Linked DNA regions of Homo sapiens: region 2 is linked to region 1. The links come from fine-mapping of genetic effects on gene expression. Tissue or cell type: whole blood. Region 1 holds a variant in brackets; the other region holds the start of a gene. All regions are shown on one strand. Distances are from middle to middle.

The links. PIP is the estimated chance that this variant, and not a neighbour inherited with it, causes the effect.
Region 2: SV2A starts here. The variant in region 1 is fine-mapped to the expression of SV2A in whole blood (INTERVAL, PIP 0.94).

Annotation. Positions count from the first base shown.
Region 1 is chr1:150,009,932-150,018,037 of GRCh38, forward strand. It overlaps OTUD7B (OTU deubiquitinase 7B), which reads right to left and starts at 795. Exons shown (of 12, transcript NM_020205.4): 1 at 517-795. LOC124904413 (a long non-coding RNA gene) reads left to right here and starts at 2,532. Exons shown (of 3, transcript XR_007066598.1): 1 at 2,532-2,594. RefSeq lists enhancers at 1-422, 7,200-7,859, 7,860-8,106 and silencers at 357-646, 907-956. The variant A/AAAAT (reference allele first, on the strand shown) is at 4,006.
Region 2 is chr1:149,913,433-149,921,538 of GRCh38, forward strand. SV2A (synaptic vesicle glycoprotein 2A) reads right to left here and starts at 4,412. Exons shown (of 13, transcript NM_014849.5): 1 at 4,307-4,412; 2 at 1-755. The coding sequence starts at 408. RefSeq lists a silencer at 4,256-4,325.

The sequences.
Region 1 (8,106 bases):
CTCCCTCTCTCACACACACACACAAACACACACACACACCTTTTTCTCGCCTTTCCTCCATTACTGTATGCACCTTAGTTTGGCTATCAATAGGAAGAATAAGCTTATTTGCTTTTCATTTTAGTATTATATTGAGATTTTAAATGAACTTTATCCTACTGTGGGGATAATACACTGCATCTTAATCACCTTAAAACTCCACCATCCCTCCCGAAAGTCTAGCTGACAAGGGGGGACCGTCCAAACTGGCCAGCACAGCTCAGGAAGGGAGGCCGGGAGCTGGAGAGCGCGGGGTAGGAACGCAGGACGCAGGTGAAAGGGAGGAGGAAAGATCGGGACGAAGCAAGGAGCAGTCAGGGCGAGAAAGGAGTGCCGAGGGGAGATGGCTTCGGGTGAAACAGATTCAGAAAGGAGAAAGGGGACAGTGGCGATCTGAGGAGCAGAGTTTGCGAGTCTGAGAAGCCGGGAGGGGCGGGAGCAGACGGGGGACGGTGTCAGGACGGGGGGCTCCGTTACCCTCGCGGGCTCCCGGGGCAAGGCCCTAGGCCGGGGCGGAGCGCGGGGCCCGGCCGCCTCTCTTCATTCCTCGGCAGTGACCCCGGGGTCCGGCCGGCCCCTCCCCCGACGGCGATGGAGGTGGAGGCGGTGGTGGAGACTGCGACCGCAGCTGTTGCTCCGCACGGGATCTGGAGCTGGAGCCAGAAAGGACTGATCGGGACTGGCCTCCCCCAGTGGCTTTTTGCCCACTCCGCACCCGGTCGCCACTCCGGCTCCGGCGGCTGGTTCAGGATCGGTGGCTTTCTGCTGTCCGGCCGGAAACAGGCGCCAGTTTCCGGCCGGAGCGGGTTGGTGGTGACACCCAGGCCGCCCCCGGGCCTCCTCCCGCTCCGCCCCGTCGCAGCCCCGCCTTTAGCGCCGCTCCCCAGGCTGCGGCCAGTTTGGCGCTTGCCCCGCGCGTGACCCCGTGTTTTCCCGACCCGAGTCCCTAAAGCTCCTGGTCTGGAGCATTCTTGAACAGGAGTTGGAGGAGTACAGGGTGGACTCTTAGGACTCTGGGGTAGAATCAGTTGGCTACAGCCGTTGGGAAGGAGCTGAAAGGGGTGGAGTAGTTGTAGAAAGGTGAGAGAGATGAAAATACTTCAGAATGAAAAGACTGACATTCTAGTAACTCTACACAATCATTCTGGAGTGACCGGAGGAAGATTAGCTTCTTCCACACCAGTCTCCACCCAATTATATATTTCTCTTGTTCCTTCACTCTTGAAGTGAACATATCCTTCTCTGTAAACACTTAATATTTATTTACTTGCATAACAGTGATACCCTGTTGATACATCTGCTTTAGACTGCTAACAGTAAAAAAAACTTACATAGTGCGTTTGTTATGTCTTCTAGTGCGTTTGTTATGTCTTTTAAAACATTATGGCATAATTCAAATATGTATTGTATCCCTGTGATGTGTATCACTGCTCTCAGTGATACAGGGGGATACAAAAATTAACAAGACATAATCCCAGACATCAAAGGTTTTACAATTTAGTAAAATACATAAAACTATATTATATGTAGCAGAACTTGTATGTGTCCTACCTGAGTGACAATGAGCTATGGCTATGAGAACATAATAAGCCATCCTTGTCACATAGTAGACCTTCCATATTTGTTGAATGAATGAATAAGTATTAGGCCTGTGTGGACTGTTTCAAGAAAGAAAGGCCATTTAGTAAATACCTCTTTATGACAAACACAAAACGATGCCAACCCCGGCTATACTCTAACAAAAGACATTTGAAATTTTAATTCAGATTCCTAACATTATAGCACCTGGTCTGCATATTCAAAATAATGTATTGCCTAATTGTGCCCATTATGCCTATGTAAAAACAAATACTCTAGTCAACTTTTCTTTCCCCTCACTTCTTCCTCAGTTTCTAAAGGGGAGGCGTGGGGCATAGGCATTTTAGAATTGTCTAGCTCAGAATAGGAAACTGACACCTGAAACAGGGAAACTTCCTAGACAGCTATATCTCTTAGGGATACACCTGGGTTTACAATCGAAAATTTAGGGCTGGGCCCAAGGCTGTCCACACATGCTAAGGCCAAACAAGTCAGAGTGCCTTGCATGGGGGCATATCCAAGACATACAATAGAGGTTGACAAGTAAAGTCATTTGGCGTGGGCTTCAAGCGTATAAGGGACCACAAATTTTAGCTACCGTTTAGTGGTAAATTTAAGGAGGAGAGCAGGATGAGATTTGGTCACCTAAATTGACTCTAACTGAACTCTAACTGAACTGAACTGGAAGGGTACGGGGGTGGACGCTTGGGACTCTGGGGTAGAATCAGTTGGCTACAGCCGTTGGAAAGGAGCTGAAAAGGGTGTCGTTCTAGAAAGGTGAGAGGGATGAAAATACTTTAGAATGAAAAGACTGAAATTCTAGTAACTCTACACAAACATTCTGGAATGATTGTGACAACAATCACTGACCACACCTACCCTTTGCTAGTTAAATCTGAGATGGGAGCACAGATCTGTAGAAGAGGAGCCTCAAAATCTGAAAGTTGCCTTGTTTCACCACAGCTGTCCAGAACCAGGTTATACCCATATAAATATGTCTTTCTAATCTTAACGCCACTGCCACAGACTTAATAGAACCAGGCGTGGAGCTCAAAGGCACTCTACCCTCAATATAAGACTTTTTCTTTTGGCAGTGACCATAGAAGGTCTCCAGATTTGAAAGCTGGGCCAAGTTGCTGGTCAAAGTCATTTAAGTGACCACACTTTATAGGCTTGCCTGGAAATTTAGGGGCCAGGAAGTGATGGGGTCACAGTTGCTTTGTGCCTATTTCTTGCTCTGACCATCCATCATTCATTGTTGTTTGTGCAGTTGCTCAATGGGCTGCTTGTCTTTGGTCAGCCCAGGCTGTGTGGGTAGCAGTGTGGTCAGCTGGGCTGGGAGCCAGGCCACCTGGGTTCTGGTCCCAGCTCAACCAGTCCCTAATCCATTAAGTGACTCCCTTCCCATTCCTGTGTCTCAGTTTCTCTGCGTAGAAACTAGAGGCTTCTTCTCTAGTGATATGCAGCCATTTAGGCTGGCACTAGGTTGGATGCTCAGAGGCAGCTGTTTAATGTAGACATTGGCAGCAGCCAGAACACAGTTGACTATTTCTTGCTGCTAGGTAGAATAGTAAGGGAAAAAAGGTAAAAGCACCAGACAAAATCCTACCGGTGTACACAGGGCCACACACCCTCAACTGCTATTCTGTCCAAAGTTCTTTTCCACCCTAGAGATCTGTTTTTGTTTACTCGTCTTAGCAATTCTAAGGGCTGCTTCAAGGAGCTCCCTGAGCTTTTACATCACTTTAAGCAAGAGCAGAAAAACCAGAGCTTTGCATTTCACCAGAGAAACTAAAAAGAGAGACTATTTCAATACTGGGGCTAATGGCTAGAGTTGGGGAAAATGTTCAGAGAAAGGTTGTAGCTAGGCAGGGAAAAAAACTATTTACATTTATATGCTTTTGTGGTGGAAAAGAAAACCAAACCAAAATAACTTCCTTTCCACCGCCACCAATATAATTTAGACCATTGGTTCTGGGGAGTTTTTAAAAACTACATATTATACATGCCTAGGAACCTCAGACTGACGCAGAATTCTTTCTTGGAACTGAAGACCATGAATCCATATTTTTTAAAAAAATATCTAGGGCTCGGCTGGGAGCAGTGGCTCACGCTTGTAATACCAGCACTTTGGGAGGCTGAGGCAGGCGGATCATGAGGTCAGGAGATTGAGACCATCCTGGCTAACCCGGTGAAACCCTGTCTCTACTAAAACTACAAAAAATTAGCCAGGCGAGGTGGCGGGCGCCTGTAGTCCCAGCTACTTGGGAGGCTGAAGCAGGAGAATGACGTGAACTCGGGAGGCGGAGCTTGCAGTGAGACGAGATCGCGCCACTGCACTCCAGCCGGGCAACAGAGTGAGACTCTGTCTCAAAAAAAAAAAAAAAT[A/AAAAT]ATATATATATACACACACACACACACACACACACACATATATATACACACACATATATACACACATATATATACACACACATATATACGTATATATACGTATATATGTGTGTGTATATATATGTGTGTGTGTGTGTGTGTGTGTGTGTATATATATATATATATATATAGTAGGGGCTCAGCCAGGCATGGTGGATCCTGCCTGAAATCCCAGCACTTTGGGAGGCCAAGGCAGGAGAATGGCTTGAGCACAGGAGTTTGAGACCAGCCTGGGCAATATAAGGAGATCCCATTTCTACAAAAATAAAAAAAAATTAGTCAGGCATGGTGGTGCATGCCTGTGGTCCCAGCTACTAGGGAGGCTAAGGTGGGAGGATCACTTGAGTCTGGGAGATCGAGGCTCAGGGAACCATGATTGCACCACTGCACTCCAGCCTGGGTGACAGAGAGAAAGTGTCTCAAAAAAAAAAAAAAAAGCTGTATGAGGGGAAGTTTCATAATGTTAAACACATTCCTACCCTAAAACCTAGTAATTCCACTCCCTAGGAATTTACCCAATAGAAATGAAATATATGTGTACACAAAAAACTTATACGTGAATGTTCACTATAGCTTTATTCATAATAGCTCCAAACTAGAACATTTTAAATGTTCACCAACAGAAAATTACTTATATTGTTCTTACAATGGAGTACAAATTTAAAAAACAAATGATCATTAAACACAACAATATGAATGAATCTTGGACTCATTTGTGGTGCAAAAAAAGCCATTTATGTGAAATTCAGGAACAGGCGAACGTAATCTTGAAGATAAAAATCAGAACTGTGGTTACCTATTAGAGGGAGGTGAAGATCAAATAGGAAGGGACATGAGGGAACTTTCTGAGGTGATGAGAATGTTCTGTGTCTTGATAAGGATGGCTGTTACACACAGACATCAAATTGTATACTTAAGATCACTATATGTGAATTTTGCCTCAATTAAAAAAAAATCCAGGGTTTCTTGATAACATTTAACCAGGTTAAACATTTACATTTACTTGTGGATTATTTGATTGATATTTACTTCACCCATCAGATTCTGACACTCCATTAGCTAAGTTTACCATTTTGTGTATAGTACCTAGCATAGTATCTGACCCACGACAGTCATTTATTAAATATCTATTAAGTGAATGAATGAATGAATGAATTGGCAGCCATTTGGCAAATGAAAGCATTGCTTTGGTAGATTATTATTTCATATTTAGTATCTTGTAATAGTATAGCTGAGCCTCCCTAATCCCAGGCCCTCTATCTGCTTGCACACCAGTGCTAAGATTATGGTTCCTAAATTTCTTTTTTTCTTTCTCTTTTTTTTTTTGTTTTTTTTTGAGATGGAGTCTGGCTCTGTCACCCAGGCTGGAGTGCAGTGGTGCAATCTCGGCTCACTGCAACCTCCACCTCCCGGGTTCAAGCAATTCTCGTGCCTCAGCCTCCAGAGTACCTGGGATTACAGGCACGTGACACCACGCGTGGCTAATTTTTGTACTTTTAGTAGAGATGTTGGCCAGGATGGTCTTGAACTCCTGACCTCAAGTGATCCACCCTCCTCGGCATCCCAAAGTGCTGAGATTACAAGCGTGAGCCCAAAGTGCTGACATTACAAGTGTGAGCCACCATGCCCGGCCACTTCCTAAATTATTTCATGGATGTTTTCTCTCTTTTCAAAAACTCTAGCAAACATGTTGGTTGCTTAACCAATGTCCATCCTCCTTCTTCCTCCATGCCTATAGAACCTTGATTAGGTTCAAGTAACCAGCCTGCTGTACATGGCTTCAGGGGAGATTGGCCTCAGTAGAGGGGGCGGGGGCTGAGTGGGAGGAACACGGGTGAAACACTAATGGATCATGGGGCTCCCTTCCCCTTGCCAGTGCTTGATCTAGGCATGTGATAGAGTTCTGACCAATTCGAGATGTGAGAAAATCCGCTGGAGGCTTTTGGGAAAGTCTTCTTTGCTCTTACAAAGAGATGAAAAGAAAGAATAAATTATTTTCCTCTGCTGCTGAAAGTTGTTGGATTTGGAAATGTTGTGCTGGTCAGAGGCCAGACTGACATACTGAGGATGACAGAGCAAAAATATTAAAAGAATCTGGGTCTTTGGTGCCCTGCTGAATTAACCTATCCCAGAGTGGTCCAACTTGAAATTCTTGTTATATGGGATAAATGCATCTTTCTTATTTTTTGAGCCATTTCAAATTTAGTCTTTCTATTGCTTGTAACCAAAATAATCCCAACGAGTAAAATGTCATCAACAATACCTCAGTGTCAATGGATAAACTGAAAATTCCTTAATCTCCTTTGTAAGAGGGAACCCAGCCTGGTCTTAACTCCATTTCTACATTTCCATTTCTACATTTGTGTTCTACTTCCTTGACCACCAGTGGTGTGCTAGTAAATATTAACAACCGGTTCTCCAGGGTGAAAAAGCCCTGATTTGTAACATTTACTAATTTTCTTTCTCTTTTCTTTTTCTTTTTTTTTTTTTTTTTTTGAGACAGAGTCTCGCTTTTGTCGCCAAGGCTGGAGTGCAGTGGCACAATCCTGGCTCACTGCAACCTCTGCCTCCCGGGTTCAAACTTCTCCTGCCCCAGCCTCCTGAGTAGCTGGGATTAGAGGCACCCACCACCACGCCTGGCTAATTTTGTATTTTTAGTAGACACGGGGTTTCACCATGTTGACCAGGCTGGTCTTGAACTCCTGACCTCAGGTGATCCACCCGCCTTGGCCTCCCAAAGTGCTGAGATTACAGGAGTAAGCCACCATGCCCAGCCAGCAGTTACTAATTTTCATGGTGCAAATATTTCTACCACTGATAAGTTCATGCTACCAATGTGATGTTGCTGAACAAGGAGCTGGGAAATGTGCAGTCGGCTCTAGCAAGTCAGTAAGAGACAGCTTGAGCTAACTCCAGCAAACCACCATGTTACCACCCAACTGTCTCCCCTGTCTCTAAGTTTTCTCTCTGGAGAGAGTTCAAGGCCCAATCTGTATCACCTCCTTTTAAAGTCTTTGTGTTAAATCCTAAACTATAAATGTGTTTATCAGTCAACTGGAATTTAGCAATTGCCTTGAATTGTTAATTTTCACAAGTATTTGCTCATAAGTGAACCGCTTAATCAATTAATGAAAAATACTTAGCAATAATAAAAATGTCAAAAGAGAGGAGTTTAGTGACACCATCTTACCTTCCTGCACTCCCTAAAGTGTTCCTAGGATTAGGCATTAGGAGAACTCCTAAGAAGAAAATCCCTGCCTCCAGGCCCTAAAATCACTGGAGGTGCTTTATTGTAAATAAGATTTATCAGCTCCCAATTATTGCAAGTAACAGTTTCCCAGGAGAGCTGGGTTAAGAGATTAAAAAAGGGCCCTTGGCAAGATTGGGTGTGTTTCTAGTATGGTCCTGACAAATCCCCTGAGGATGTAAGAATGGGCTTCTAAGGCCATTACAGGCCTAGCAACAAGTAGGTAGAGAAAAGAAGCCAGTTCCTTAGGCTATGAGGAGAGCAAGTGCTACCTTACCTAATTGGAATGCAGGTCAGGTGGGTCAGCTTAATCTCCACCTCACAGGTGACACACCCCAGGCTTGGAGGAAGCATGTACTTAAGACTACCAACACTTTAGCTCAGGCAATGAGGAGAGGCCTGGGAATGGAATGACAAAGTCACTCTGCCCCTGACTAGGTCAGCACTAGGAGGGAGGCCAAACTCAGGCTACTGGAAACTGACAGAGCATTCAGGGGATAGAAGATTGACACTACATCAGGCTCTGGTTATTGCTTTGGGGCATTTACTTGACACTGTCATTAACTCCCCTTTTTTCTTTGTGACTAATGGCCCAGGTTGACCTCAACAGGTACCACATACTAAGAACATTTCCTAAATTATAAAGACATGCTTTTTCTCCCCACATCAGGGAGCTTTGGGGTTCAGTGACTATATCTAATTGGCATCTACTAGAATCTCTCACTGACGTGCCCTCCATTTCCATATTACTGTCCTGATCAGCACTGTGGCTGTTCCCATGTTGCTTATGGTCTATGGACGAGCCTGCAAAGCAT
Region 2 (8,106 bases), 96 kb before region 1:
CCGGCCCCCAGGGGGACCCTCCCCATCACTCAAGCCCCCCCTTACTCCAGCCAGGGGCGCCCCATCTGCCATCCGCTCGCCTTTGCCCCCAGACTCTGCCCGGGGAATGCCCTGATATTCCCCTTCATAGATCTCATCATCCTCGTCATGGCCCTCAGTAGCATCACTGGATGCACCACCTTCCTCCTCATCCTGGGTCCCTTCTCCTCGGTAATAACCATCACTGGGAGCAGGGAAGTCATCATCATCATCCTCCTCCTCAAAGCGGGAGTACGATCTTCGGGAATATTCGTCCTGGACTCTGTCCAGGCCCTTCACCACCTTCTTGGCCGCATGCTTTTTGACTTCCTTAGCAATGTCTTTGGCCCCACGGATGAAAGCTGCCCGGTCTCGGAAGCCCTCTTCCATGATGGGGCTTGGGGCACTTCACTGGGTCTTCTCCACCTCCTGCTTCTTTTTCAGCTTTTTGCTCAAGGACTTGTAGAGTCAAAAAGACCCCTCCCCACAGTTACTTAGATGAAGCGTGTTCCAGTATCTCTGGGCACAAAAAAAAGAGCAAACAGGTCCTAGCCAATGAGTGCCTAGGAAGGAAAAGGAAGGAGAGGAGCTTTGACCTATACCCAGTTCAGTTGGGTGGATGGGGAAGGGACAGGGGGAGCAGGGGAATGGGAAGGGGAAGGGGAGCCAGATTGGGAGGCTAAGCCAGGATAACTCAGGAAGGGTCGCCTGCTTCTCTTCCACAAGCCTCTGGAGACCTAGAAAAAATAACAGACAGCAAAAGGAAGTTGTGAGTCCTAAGGTGGTGAAGAAGGCCAGTATAAAGCCTCTCAACCCAGAGCCCCATCTGGACCATGTGGTGCAGAGATGGTCTTCTCGCTTTAGGCTCCCATCCACACACTAAAAAGGGATGGCTATCTGGGCTAACCGGGTCACTCACATAGAAGTCCCCTTACTTTGACCTTGGAGGCCTGGCCTGTGGAATTTGCTCCAAAGTCGCAGTCACCTACCCCCAAACCCACCCCAGCCCTTGCTTTATCACCAATCTGCAAAGAACTAAACAGGAAATATGAGAAACCAGAATTCCCTTCTTTAGTCTTGCCTGGGTTTCTTACTAGGGGTGGAGTTGAGGAGGATGTGTAAGAGGACAAGCCCTCCAACCTGTGGCCTTCCCTCCTCTGATGGCATCTGAAGGCAGGGGCTTCCACTGTCCTTCCCTCAGGTCCCATGTTTACAGGCTTCAACAAGGAGGGATTTTCTCTCAACATAGTCTAATGGGTAAATGCTCAGCTTCCAGAGTCACAAAGACATGGGGTTGACTTCCTGTTTTGGCAAATACTAGCTAAGGGACCAAGCCTCAGTTTCTTCTTGTTTAAAAAGGGGAAAGTAAGGGTCGAATGATATAATGTATCTATGCTCCTTACCATAAGTCACCTGGCACATAAAAATGATGAATAAATATTAATTATTAATTTTGTGGTGACAGTAATATAGTGAAATGCCCTATACTACCTCATAAGGTCCCCAGATGAAAGCTATCTTGGATGCTCTTTAGGGTGAGCAGCAGGAAGGGACACTGGCAAGGAGAATCCTGGTTCAGGGCAAAGCACATGACTGTTAGGGGTGACCTAAGTTGAAATCCCAACTCTGCCACTTACTAACTGATCTCAGTCAGGGTAGTTAACCTCCCTAAGCCTCAGTGTCCATCTATTTTAACTGGGGATAATTAAATTGGGAGACTGTTTCTTGGAGTTGATGTGAGAATGTAATCTCACAGTAGATACTCTATGTTAGTTTTCTTCCTTCCTATGATGTTGAAAGTGGGAAAGAAACAGGAAGCAGCAAGGGACAACAGGGGGGTCATACTTAGATGCTGTTGCCCAGCATCCTTGCAAACAGAGTCCCAAGACACCCCTATCTATGTTTCAACTAATTCCAGTAGCTGGGCCCACATTAACTACCTCCAGAAGAACAAGGGAAGATCCAGAAAAGGGGGACCTGGAACCCAAGTAAAGTGGAGGAAAGATGGAAAGCTAAGAAAGAGGTGATGACTGTCCACTGCCACCTTGCTTCAGAATGTCATAGATAGGCCCCCTTTCCACAGATGGGGGTGAGAATGGAAATGACTGTCAAATGCATACATTTCCAACATGAGGTTCTAAGGCCTACAGTTGCATCCCATCCCTCCAGGGCCTCCCTTCCTAATCCCCCTTAATCCTTTCTGCTCCTCCTCCAGGAGTCAAGGAAGAAGGAGTCCACAAACACCGCATTGCGTAGGAGGCGGATGTAGAATAAAGGGGGTTTGGGTGTCCCCCCAAAAAAGACATTCTCCAGAGGAAGGCATGGGATAGCCCCCTTCCTTCATAGGAGCAGAGGAAGCAGGCCTAGATTCTGATCAGAAATCATCCCCCTAAAAATATCCTGCCTCCGGTGCTCCCACCCATCCAGGGCCTTCATTAAAACACACACACACACACACACACGCACACACACACACACGCCCTGGTAGAAGACGGTAAGCAATGCTATGTGGTTCAGAGAGAAGCACTGGCAAGCAGCGCCTTATCCCCTCAGGACAGATGTAAGCAGTGGACCACGGTGACCAGAAGCAGTGACCCCTATGTCACCTTTTCTTCATGGTTCAGGGCCCAACCATCCCCCATGAAAGAGCTGGAACTGCGGAATCCCCTCAGCGCATGGCAATTTGCTAGCTTTCCTCTCTTTCCTAACCAGGATCTCCCCTCCAGCCCTGAAGGAGGCAGGACCCACCAGGAGCCATACTCTATGTTTGTTGACCCTATTTCCCCCTGAGAGGGGCACGTAGGGCAGGGAAGCCTTCCACAACCACAGCAGGATATGAGGTCTCAACAGCCAGCTTCCTCAGGGCCAGCAAGCCCAGGAGGTCAGGAGAGAAAGAAAGAAGACAAATTCTTTGAGCTGGTGAGGAAGTGGTGCTATTTTTAGCCCCCAAAACAGCACAGGGTGGCTAAGCCTGGGGGAGTGAGACAAGACTTGGAGAGGTGGAGGTTAAAGGAGACAAGGTTCAGGGTTACAAGGTCCTAGGCTGGCTGACTTCACCTGACAGGAAAAAATGTGCCCAGGAGATTTTCTGCAGAGGGTGGAGACAGGCAGGGGACTCCAGAGCAAATGCTTTCTTTCAGAACAGCTCATCCAGCCCTGGGTCCAGAACCCCCCACCCTCCCAGTCAAAGCCCCTGACTTTGGGGTCCACCCAGATCCCCAGGCCTTCCTAGCTCAGGTGACAAGGTCATTAAAAAGCAATCACTTATCAAAACGTCCGCGGGGGCGGGGGTAGAATGTGGGAGGTGCGGGAGCACCCCTTCCCCATGACAGCCCGGTCATCGAACTTCAGCCCCCACCCAGGACCATCAAGACTGCGCCTCCCCTCCCCACATCCTACCAAGGTTAGGAAGATAGGAGCACCCACAGTTCTGAGGGATAAAAATGAGGGTGTCAGCTGAGAATGCACACTGAGGAATACGGAGAGGCAGAGAGGGGGACGCAGGGAGAGACCTCCGCATGCACAGACATAGAGACCGCCCCTATCAGCATTTGCAGCGACCCCCCCACACCCCATCTTGCCTCAGCTCCGGAATAAGGGAAAAGCCCCCAGAACTGACTAAATCCCTGCTCTGAGCACCTCCTCCACCCTTGGTCCTGCTGCTAGACAAGTGTCCACCTTCACTCAACATCCCTTCCCCCCACCCCGGAGCAACTGCCGCCAGCCCCCGCCATCCATGCCCCCAACACCTGGCGGCTCTACATCTCTGTCTCCCCAGTATTTCCATTCTTCACTCCCCTTCCCTCCATCCTTCACCTGCCCTTCTTCCCCTGCCCCCCACCCACCCAAGTCCAGGCGTGCACACTGAGGCAGCATCCATTCTCCAGCCCCAGCCAAGGTCATTTATCATTCATCCTGGGGGTGGGGGGACGTCAAGGTGAGGAGGGGATAGGAGTTTGAGGGAACCTCATCCCACCTCACAACCCCACCACCACGTTAATCTCCGAAGGGGATAGTGGGGACTTGGTTAAGGTAGAGAAAAACACCCCTCCTCCCCATTCACCAATATTATACATATGCGTGTGTGTGTGTGTGTCCTGAAGAGCACAACTGAAATAAATGTCCATCCCCAAACCACCACCAACCCACCAACCCCCCTCACCCCTAGAGAGGGGATCGTCACCCTCCCCATAAGCAAAGCATCGGAGGATAAAATGGCTGCAAGGCAAGGCAAAGATGCTTCTGCCAGGGGCGGGGAGGAGGTGAGCGACTGAGAAAGGGGTCTCACCTGGTCTAGGTTCCCCGGGTAAGGAGTCCCGGGCGAGGACGGGGGTCCCGGCCGCGGGCGGAGGCGGCAGCGGCGACTGCTCCCGGCACCAGGGAAGCGGCAATGCAGACCTGCCACCCCCCTTCCACCACTCCAGCCCCGCCTCCGCCCCCCCCTACCCCGCGCCACTGAGCATCGGGAGAGACCATTGGTGGGGAGAGGAGAAAAGAGGATGGGGAGGGAGTCAGGGCACGGGGAGAAATGATGAAAGGGCCGGAGGTTGTCACAAGAACAGCTGGAAATGGCACCCAGCCCTTCCCAGGCCCTTCCTAGTAAAAGATAGAAGGAACTAAAGAAAAAAACAGTGATGTTAGGAAGACAAGTGGGAAGACAGGGAGATGGGGAATGTGGCAGCCCCTTCCTTAGCACCCCAGTCTCAGTATGGCAGGACCCAATAATTTCAGGGGCTTTTGCTGCCTTCAAAACACCTCCCTTGCCTTCTCCACTGCTCTCAAACTCCTTTTTCACAACAGTCTCCCAAATCCAGAGTGCTCCTATTCCAAGTTTACCTGGACATTTTAGAGAAAGCAGAGATAACAAGGTGTGGTTTCTATCCTGAACTGCCAGAGTCAGAGACCCCTGGATTCCTTCCATCTCTTTCCTCACAAAACAGTCCAGGTTACTTATTTACAGTGGACACCTCCTCATCCTGTCCATTCAGTTGGTGGTAGCAGAAGTACTGGGGAAGTTGAGGGATTTTTACAGACCTGACCAACCGGACAGTTCCCCTTCCATTAATTTGCTCCAATGACTCAAAAAGGATCCTCTCAATACCCTTCTCCATTTTCTCTTACTCTCCTCTACCTCCCTCCCCTCCCCTCCACACACTTGTACTTCCCGGGCAGGAAGAAGTAAATTGTTTCAGCTTTTCCCTTCATCTTTCCTTTGCTCTTGCATCAATAACCTGGACTCAGAGATCCAAGACATGCCACTTGGTGACACTTGATGACCATCCCTGCCGAAGGAGTGAGAGGGAATATGGTGATTTGGGGAAATACATCCTGAATGTGTCTATGCCAGATAAGGTCAGGACCTTCCAGACAGCACTGACCTGGGCTTGGACCTGGGTTCTCACTGCTAACAAGCTGTCAACTCTTGGTCAAGTTCTCCACATCTGTGAACTTCAGGTTTCTCATCTGGAAAAGGGGGGCTTGGACTAGATACTGCATCAGGTCCCTCTCAGATCTAATAGCGTGTGATTCTGCCTTACTAAATGTGGAGGCTTCAGAATGCTGATATATATACATGGAGAAGGCTGACAGGCTATGTCCGAAGAGACCACACAGGTAACATTTGCCAGGTTGAATTTACCTCTGACAGGGACACGGGCCTGGGCTTTGCAGACTCCAAAGCTGGATCTTGGAAATAATCATTCATGCCAACAAAGTTCACAATCTTCTGAAATATAAAGCCATAATACATAAATATTAATTTATCATAAATATTTAACTGTCACTCAGACTGAAAACTCATATCTACATGTCTAGTACATTCTCTCCCTGAAGCCAAATCAGAATCATAATGTCAATGTATAAATGCACAATGACATTACTGGAGGATTTGTATCTTTAATGGCATCTGGCCATCTGCAATAAGCAGCCATGCCAATGGGTCCAGAAAACTCTTCTTGGCAACAATCTTCTACCCCCACCTCTTTGCTATTGGCAGCCTTGCCAGCACTCCTGGACTACTCTGAATGTGACGGCTTTCCAGGATGGTGCTTGGACTGGCCTCAGGGACTCTCCCTTTACTAGACTTTCATTGCTGACCCGTCTTCAGGTTAACACACATTCTTTTTCTTTTTTTTTTTTTTTTTGAGACAGAGTCTCACTCTGTCGCCCAGGCTGGAGTGCAGTGGCGCAATCTCAGCTCACTGTAACCTCCACCTCCGGTGTTCAAGTGATTCTCCTGCCTCAGCCTTCCCAGTAGCTGGGACTACAGGCACGAGCCACCACACCCAGTTAACTTTTTTTTTTTTTTTTGAGACAGAGTCTTGCTCCGTCGCCCAGGCTGGAGTGCAGTGGCACAATCTCGGCTCACTGCAAGCTCCGCCTCCCGGGTTCATGCCATTCTCCTGCCTCAGCCTCCCGAGTAGCTGGGACTACAGGTGCCCGCCACCACACCCGGCTAATTTTTTGTATTTTTAGGAGAGACGGGGTTTCACTGTGTTAGCCAGGATGGTCTCGATCTCCTGACCTTGTGATCCGCCCGCCTCAGCCTCCCAAAGTGCTGGGATTACAGGCGTGAGCCACTGCGCCTGGCTAACTTTTGTATTGTTAATGGAGACAGGGTTTCACCGTGTTGGCCAGGCTGCTCTCGAACTCCGGACCTCAAGTGATCCACTCACCTCTGCCTCCCAAAGTGCTGGGATTACAGGCGTGAGCCACCGCACCCAGCCAAATATGTTAACATTTTCAATTAGGTTATAGCCAAGTCCAGCAGGAGAGCATTTGGCCAGCAGGGAGCCATTTCTTCCCTTTAAGGTGACTTTGCCTACTCTCCACTGATACCTTATTTGCTAAAATAGAAATCTTGCATACTTTTAGAGTGAAAACTTATACCATCAGTCCTCCATATCCATGGGTTTGGCATCCATGGATTCAACCAACTGTGGATGGAAAATGTAGTTAGGCCTATGATGGTTGCATTTGTACTGAACATGTATAGACATTCTCCTCTTGACATTTATTTCCTAAACAATACAGTATAACAACTACTTGCATAGTATTTACACTGCATTAGGTGTCACAAGTAATCTAGAGATGATTTAAAACACACTGGAGGATGTGCCTAGGTTATATGCAAATGTGCCATTTTATATAAGAGATTTGAGCATTTGTGAATTTTGATTATCTGTGGAGGGTCCTGGAACCAATCCCTTGAGAATACACAAATGACTGTATATATTTTCAAGTTCTGAGGGAAGACCTCATCATTTTCCCCCAGGTGCCAGTGCCCTGTCCCACCAACCACTCCTTTGTAGTCCCCTTTGCTGGGGCCATTTAATTTTAGAGTTCCTATGGGCTCAGTCCCAGGGGCGGGAAGCCTTCTACTCTCTTCTTGCTCACCACAGGCAGTCCCGACTTTAATACTGCCTATATGCTGATGATTCCCATTTATATCTGCAGTCCAGACCTTCCCATCAAGCCCAGACTCAAAATCTCTGTCTATTCAATATCACCACACGAACATCTAATAAGCATATCAAACTGGGGCAGCTAGAATTTCCGAGCCAACAGCCTCCAGGCTGAAGCAGCTGCCTCCCCTTACCTCAATTTTGTTTCAAATGGTTCCCTGCCATGATGTGAAAAAGGGCTGAAAAATGGTTTTTGGGAGCTCCCTAACTGGCTCTGACCTCAGCCTGCCTCCAATCCCAAACAGCTCTAGTGCATTATACACCATGCTATTTATCAATCTGTTTCTCCTCAGAAACATCCCATCCACCTGGATTGAATTTCTCCTTGCCTGGGAAAGGTCTATCCTTCCTTGAAGATTAAATGCAGGTATCACCTTTTTCCCAGGAAGTTTTCCTGGACTTTTCTTTTTTTAAGGTGGGAGGTGGGGGACAGTTTCGCTCTTGTTGCCCAGGCTGGAGTGCAATGGCTTGATCTCGGCTCACTGCAACCTCCACCTACCAGATTTAAGCGATTCTCCTGTCTCAGCCTCCTGAGTAGCTGGGATTACAGGCGCCCACCACTGCACCTGGCTAATTTTTGGTATTTCTAGTAGAGACGGAGTTTCACCATGTTGCCCAGGCTGGT